Homo sapiens: one gene and its partner. The protein of the gene in region 1 interacts with the protein of each later gene in a biochemical or structural test. Each region holds a gene or a part of one and is shown on either strand. Other genes may lie near its edges.

Region 1 (3,500 bases):
TAGTCCACTCAGTAAGGCTAGACCAAGAAATTGAGCAAATGTAAAGATTTCCAAGTTGAAATTTATATTTGAAATAGCATGCAGAAAATGGCTTACATTCAGATATTACAACATACCTGACTATATTTGGATGACGAAGTTCCTTTAATAGAGAAATTTCCCGAATTGCAGTACTAGGAACCCCTTCCTCTTCACTTTCTAGTCTGATTTTTTTCATGGCTACCACTTGACCTGTAGTTTTGTGTCTACCCTTATACACAACTCCATAGGTACCTGAAACAAAGTAAATAATATGCTGTGTGACACACCCCACAAACTAAAGATCTTTTTTTCTTTTTTTTTTTCCTTATGGCAGGGTCTTGTTTTCTTGTCCAGGTTGGAGTGCAGTGGGTCAATCAAGGCTCACTACAACCTCCTCCTCCTGGGCTCAGGGGATCCTCCCACGGCAGCCTCCCAAGTAGCTGGGACTACAGGCACATGCCACCACACTCGGCTAATTTTTGTCTTTTTGGTAGAGATGGGGTTTCACCATGTTGCCCAGGCCAGTCTGGAACTCGTGAGCTCAAGCAATCTACCTGCCTCGCCGCCCCAAAATGCTGAGATTACAGGCGTGAGCCACCGCACCTGGTCAAACTAAAGGATTTCAAGATCATTGAATCCCATAAGGGTCACATGATAGAAATGTCTGGTGTGGCCATATGGGAAGTATCTTACTCATACCCTCATTGCTTCCAAAAAGAAATTGAGAGTAACTACAATCTGTATGGCTTAAAAATAAAATTCATGTAGTCATCACAAGTTTTCTATACATCTAAATTACCATTAATGTTCCAGCATATTTTACAGAACAAAATAGATCATTTGCAAATTAAAATTAACCTTCTGTCAATATCCTACCCTGCAACGAAGTGGGCATAAAATATAGTGTAAAAATTTGGGCTCAGGAAATATTACTGATAAAAGTCATTATGACACTTTCAGAAAATACTGTAGAGTGCTTTATGCTTTTCAAAACACTTTTATCTGTATCTCAAAATACAGTCAACAGTCCTCATTCTCAAAAGAATGGAGAAAAAAGACCAGGTGTTTGTGTATTAAACCTAATAAAGCACATTGTATGTACTACATATTAGGAAAGCCTCACACCCATTTGCAAGTTGATGAAAATACTGATTTTGATATATGGGCTTCAGGTAATGAGCAACAATATCAATTATAAGGGATAGCAGGGAGGGAGGAGGTGGATACAGGGAATGAAATGGCAATAAGGGAGAAGACTAGCTAAAATCTGTCATATACGTGGCTGAATTCCCTAGATAAGTCTTTTTAAACTCGAGTTGGAGTTTAGGGAGGTCCTGAACCCCTTAAGTACACACAAAATTTTGTTGAATAGCTTGCTTTCCATGGCATTGGTTTAACTTCAAAAGTGATTAGAGTGCACTGTTCTAGGAAGAAGGCCTCTTCTATAGCTTTTATGAGTTTCTCTGAAAGTAGCAATATTTTAAAAAAGGCTAACAACCAACAAATTACCAACTGCTTGGTTAAAAAATTAAGCAGTTTGAGCAGTAGCAAATTGATGCTACTTAAGCTTAATTTTTTTGACAGAACCTCTATACAAAAGTCTATGTTTTCTTAAATACTGGTGTCATTTTAAAACTATAAACTGACATGAGTCATTTTATACTATTTTGATTAAATTGTGGATTAATGTATAACTTTTTGATAACCAAAATTACTCTACATTAAAGGAGAATTGACTATATTTAATCCTCACAGCCATCCTTAAAAGTAGGCAACCTTCATATACTTAAAATCTACATTTTTTTGGATGTAAATTCAGCTCTCATTAAACACAAAAAGTAGGTAAACCAGTAGCACAATCATCTGGCATACTGTTTAAGTGATCTCAGGAAAATTAGTCACTTGCATAATACAGTCACATAAACAGTTAATGGTAAGTTCAGAACTAATTTTTTTTCTAGCATCCTTTCTTCTCCCTCAAGTGTACAATCTCATCTAATCCTAAATAATTTTCAGAATTAACAATTAACCAGTGGCCAACACTCAATGTGTTGAATTTTAGAGATAATATCACTTCTCACTGAACTACTGGAAGAGGGGTTAAACAAAGCAGAACTTTCTATTGGTTAATCATCCAAAATTATTTTTGAAATACATGGCATATCCTCCAAAATGAACTAAGAATTCTAAAGACAGAAATACTCTAGGGTATTTAACTAAGTATAAATAACTAAGGAGGCAAAAATCATTAACACAGGTAAGCCTAGAAGGAGATCAGTCTAAGTCTAATGGAAGATTTATCCCAGGAAACAAAAAGAAACAAAAGAAAAATATGTAGGATATGATCAAGTTATGGAGGCCCTTAAGCAGAAAACCTTCATTAAGCAAGTATTTATCAAATGCCTACTAAATGCCAGGCAAGGTTCCACCATCATGGATACTGCTACTCTATGATCCAAAAAGACATTTTCTTAAGACAGGAAGGATTTCAAAGATTAGTATCACAACACTCAGATTTCTGTAATTCAGAAGAAACCAGAGAACAATTTTTGTAATATTTAAAATAGTAAAGTCTGGAGGTATTTAAGAAATGAATTAGGTTGTCAAGACTCACTGTCAAGTGAGAGAAAAGGCAGAGACTGTTCTAAATCAGAATTAATGTCAATGAAAAAAATAAAAAATAATGCTAACATACATACAGATAATAAAGTAAACATGACAAAACACCAACATCTTGGTAAAAATATTACAAGTTCATTGCATAAATCTTTCAATATAGATTTGGAGATGTTCAAAATGAAAAGTTGAGGGGAAAAAATATAACTTTTAAAGTAGTATTTTAATACTAGACTTTAACCAGATACCTGGCAGAACCAAAAGAAAATTCTGTGTGAATCATTTAGGCCTCCATTTATTTCCACAAGTTCCTTTTTCCAAAACAATATCCAGCACATAATCCAAAACAATCAGGCATTGGAGTAGAAATGACAATACAAGCCAGAAAAAGAAACAACAGTGTTCAGAAGAGCAAACAAGGAAAACAGATGTTATTATTATCTATTTGGCTATCTCCTGTGGGTTGGGCACTACTGATAGGCAGTGGGCAAACAGTTGTGAACAAGACAAAAACCCCAGCCCTCAAGGATCCTATGGTATGATGCAAAGGGAACTACAAAATGCTCTTGGACTAGAGGAGGAGATAAAAAATGAAGCCAGTAGAAACTGGCCTCCAGGTAGAAAGAACAGCCATTGCCAAAACTCATAGGCCAAATCACAGGATACATTTGAGGACATCAAAGAAATCCAAATTAAGAGTTAAGTGGCATTAGATGGAGCTGGTGAAGAGATGGTTTTGGAGACAGTGTTCATAGTAATAATACAATGTTCAAATGATAAACATTTGAAGGTTTTCTGAGTTAAAGCGCTCATAACAAATGCTTTCCATAATATTGTTCAATTGAATCATATCTTTCGTGTTA
Region 2 (3,500 bases), on another chromosome or scaffold:
ACCATGGCCCCAGCTGGATGGCGCTCCCACCACCCATGGGGCTGCAGCCTCTTGCCTGTTGAAGCAGGAGTTCCGTCATCTCTAACTTCTTTTGCAATTCTTCCAAGTTAAGCTGCATGCCAGCCTTCTCAGTCACTAGGACCCGAAGCTTCTCTTCCAATTCTGATTTCTCTTGCTTCAGGTCCTCATTGCTTTGGCTATGGCCAGAGGCAGTAGAGAAAGGAATGAACGAAGAACAGAAAGGACTGCTTTGGTGATCCACCCTCTACCCTTGCCCCACAACCACAGAACTGTGGCACTGGAAGGAACCCCAGGAATCAAAAGTCACATGTACAGGCCAGAGAAAAGATACGAGTTACCCAAGGCTACACCATGAGTCAGTGGCACAGCTGGCACTAGAGCTTTGCTGGGCACACATGCACACCTCTATGACTACCTCATCATGCTTACCTGTACCCCCCACCTCCCAGCACACCACCCATGCTGAGGGCCCCCAGACCTCCCATCCCACCATCCCCCATCCTACGTGTTCTTGTATAACTCCAGCCTGAGGGCGTCTCTCTCTTTGGTTAACTCCTTGTTGTACTGTAAATACAGAAAGGTTAAGTCAGGATATAGCAGGCAGAGGAGCAGCTGGCCAACCAGTAACAACAGCTACAGTAAGTACTCCACAGTAACACTTCCTCACTCTCAATCACACTTGACATGTTTTCAAGGCATTTCCAAGCCCATGGTCTCATTTTGTTGTTGCTGTTGTTGTTTTTGAGACAGAGTCTCCCTCTGTCACCCAGGCTGAAGTGCAGTGGTGAGATCTCAGCTCACAACCTCTGCCTCCCTGGTCCAAGTGACTCTCCTGCCTCAGCCTCCTGAGTAGCTGGGACTATAGGCGTGCACCACCATGTCCGGCTAATTTGTTTTGTTTTGTTTTTTCTGAGATGGAGTCTCTGTTGCCCAGGCTGGAGTGCAGTGGCGCAATTTCGGCTCACTGCAAGCTCCGCCTCCCGGGTTCATGCCATTCTCCTGCTTCAGCCTCCTAAGTAGCTGGGACTACAGGCCCCCGCCACCACACCCGGCTAATTTTTTTGTATTTTTAGTAGAGACGAGGTTTCACTGTGTTAGCAAGGATGGTCTCGATCTCCTGACCTTGTGATCCGCCCGTCTCAGCCTCCCAAAGTGCTGGGATTACAGGCGTGAGCCACCATGCCTGGCCTAATTTTTTTATTTTTAATAGAGAGGGGGTTTCAACATGTTGGCCAGGCTGGTCTTGACTCCTGACCTCAAGTGATCCGCCCGCCTCAACTTCCCAAAGTGTTGGGATTACGGCACCCGGCTGGTCTCATTTGTTTTTAAAAAAACTTGGTAAGGGTGGCCGGGTGCGGTGGCTCACGCCTGTAATCCTGGCACTTTGGGAGGCCGAGGGGGACGGATTACGAGATCAGGGGATCGAGACCATCCTGGCTAACACGGTGAAACCCCATCTCTACTAAAAAAAAAAAAAATACAAAAAATTAGCCAGGCGTGGTGGCAGGTGCCTGTAGTCCCAGCTACTCGGGAGGCTGAGGCAGGAGAATGGCATGAACCCGGGAGACAGAGCTTGCAGTGAGCCGAGATGGTGCCACTGCACTCCAGCCTGGGCAACAGAGTGAGACTCCGTCTCAAAAAAAAAGGACTTGGTAAGGGTGGAAGGAACAGGGAGAGAGAGCGAATTTATGTATGTACGTATGTATGTATATATGTATTTATTTGAGATGGAGTCTCCATCTGTCACCCAGGCTGGAGTGCAGTGGCGCCATCTTGGCTCACTGCAACCTCTGCCTCCCGGGTTCATGTGATTCTCCTGCCTCAGGCTCCTGAGTACCTAGGATTACAGGCATGCGCCATCATGCCTGGCTAATTTTTGTTATTATTTATTTATTTATTTATTTATTTATTTATTTTCAGACAGAGTCTCCCTCTGTCACCCAGGCTGGAGGGCAGTGGCACGATCTCAGCTCACCGCAACTTCCGCCCCCGGGTTCAAGCAATTCTCCTGCCTCAGCCTCCCAAGTAGCTGCAATTACAGGGGCACGCCACCACACCTGGCTAATTTTTTGCATTTTTAGTAGACACAGGGTTTTGCTATGTTGGTCAGGCTGGTCTCGAACTCCTGACCTCAGTTGACCCACCTGCCTCGGCCTCCCAAAGTGCTGGGATTACAGGCATGAGCCACCACACCTGGCCAAGATCGAATTTACAGCTGGCTAACAGAGGCCCAGAGAGATCAGATAATATTGCTATTGTTATTATCATTATTACTACCACTGTTTGAACCTTTATTGAATGCTTCACCAGGCACCATGCTAACAATCCCATTTAATCCTCATAACCACCACATGAGACAGTTACTATTATTACCTCTATTTTGTAGATGGACAACACGGAATATTAGAGGTTAAGTGCTTGCCTAAGATCACTTAGACAGAGCTCGGATTTGAACACCCAGGTATATCTGACTCTCTAAGCTCATTTGTTCCCCGAGGGTGGGGGCACAAATAGGAAGGGGGAAATTATCTTTTGTTCAGTTTTTGAAAGGATGATATATTCAGATAGTCCAAAACTCCGAAAGGGCAGAAGGGAAATATCTTCCAGCCGTGCTGTTCCTCTCTCCTGAGTTTGTTATGAATCCATGCAGACACGTTTTATGTATATTGTCATAGTACATAGGTACACATACACACACACGTTCCCTCTCTCTACACAAATGGTAACATACTAAAGATACTCTTCTGTACCTTCACAGTACAAGTACCATATTCCCCCACCTAGGACTTGACCAAGGCCACAGCCAGGTAACGGCACAGCGGGCACTTGGCCTCCGAGCTCTGCGTCCAGTGTTCACTCCCCACAGTGCCCCCAAACTCACCCACAGCAGCTGACTCAGCCCCAGGATGCCTCTAGCAACCACACACAAAAGCAGTGATAAATGGCCCATGCTGCCTTCTAGGCAGGACAGTCAACCCTGCAGAAGGGACCTTTAGGCTCACTCCTCCATCTGGGAAGCCAGTATGCCAGGGGACGGGGCAGGCAGTTGGACTCACCCTGTCTGCCTTCTTCTGCTGCGTGGAGACAGCAGAGAGAGCCCGCTCCAACTCTCCCACACGCCGCCGGGAATACTGCAGGCGGCTGGCCAGATCTTCAGACTCTCCTGGAATGAGAGAGGTTGAGATGGGGCCCAAAGGACTCCCCCTAAAGGCCTGTCAAAGTGCCAGGTTGAAGGATGATGGGGTGCCCAGATTCCCACCTTCTTTCTGCCTGGCAGCATGCTGAGTGTGAGCCAGGGCTGTCTGTAACTCAGCTTTCTCTGATACGAGGATCCCTATGGTCTGAATGTGAACCTTTGGGAGGAAACCCAAGCAAGTGCTGAAAAAGAAGGAAAGAAACATTCTCCAGAGGACAGGACGGAACTTCACACCCTCCACTCACCTGTAACTGCTCCCTTAGGGCTCCCTGCTTTTGGTGGC

Evidence for each region. Proteins that work in one complex are often made in the same cells at the same time.
Region 2: of the proteins of CDK1 (region 1) and GOLGA2, one has a biochemical effect on the other in vitro, tested with the Homo sapiens proteins (one study listed by BioGRID).

What each region holds. Positions count from the first base shown.
Region 1 is NC_000010.11:60,781,478-60,784,977, reverse strand, and holds part of CDK1 (cyclin-dependent kinase 1), read right to left. Parts: intron 274-3,500; coding exon 117-273; intron 1-116. UniProt on the Homo sapiens protein: Plays a key role in the control of the eukaryotic cell cycle by modulating the centrosome cycle as well as mitotic onset; promotes G2-M transition via association with multiple interphase cyclins.
Region 2 is NC_000009.12:128,262,508-128,266,007, forward strand, and holds part of GOLGA2 (golgin subfamily A member 2), read right to left. Parts: coding exon 3,463-3,500; intron 3,375-3,462; coding exon 3,281-3,374; intron 3,185-3,280; coding exon 3,078-3,184; intron 586-3,077; coding exon 527-585; intron 198-526; coding exon 56-197; intron 1-55. UniProt on the Homo sapiens protein: Peripheral membrane component of the cis-Golgi stack that acts as a membrane skeleton that maintains the structure of the Golgi apparatus, and as a vesicle thether that facilitates vesicle fusion to the Golgi membrane.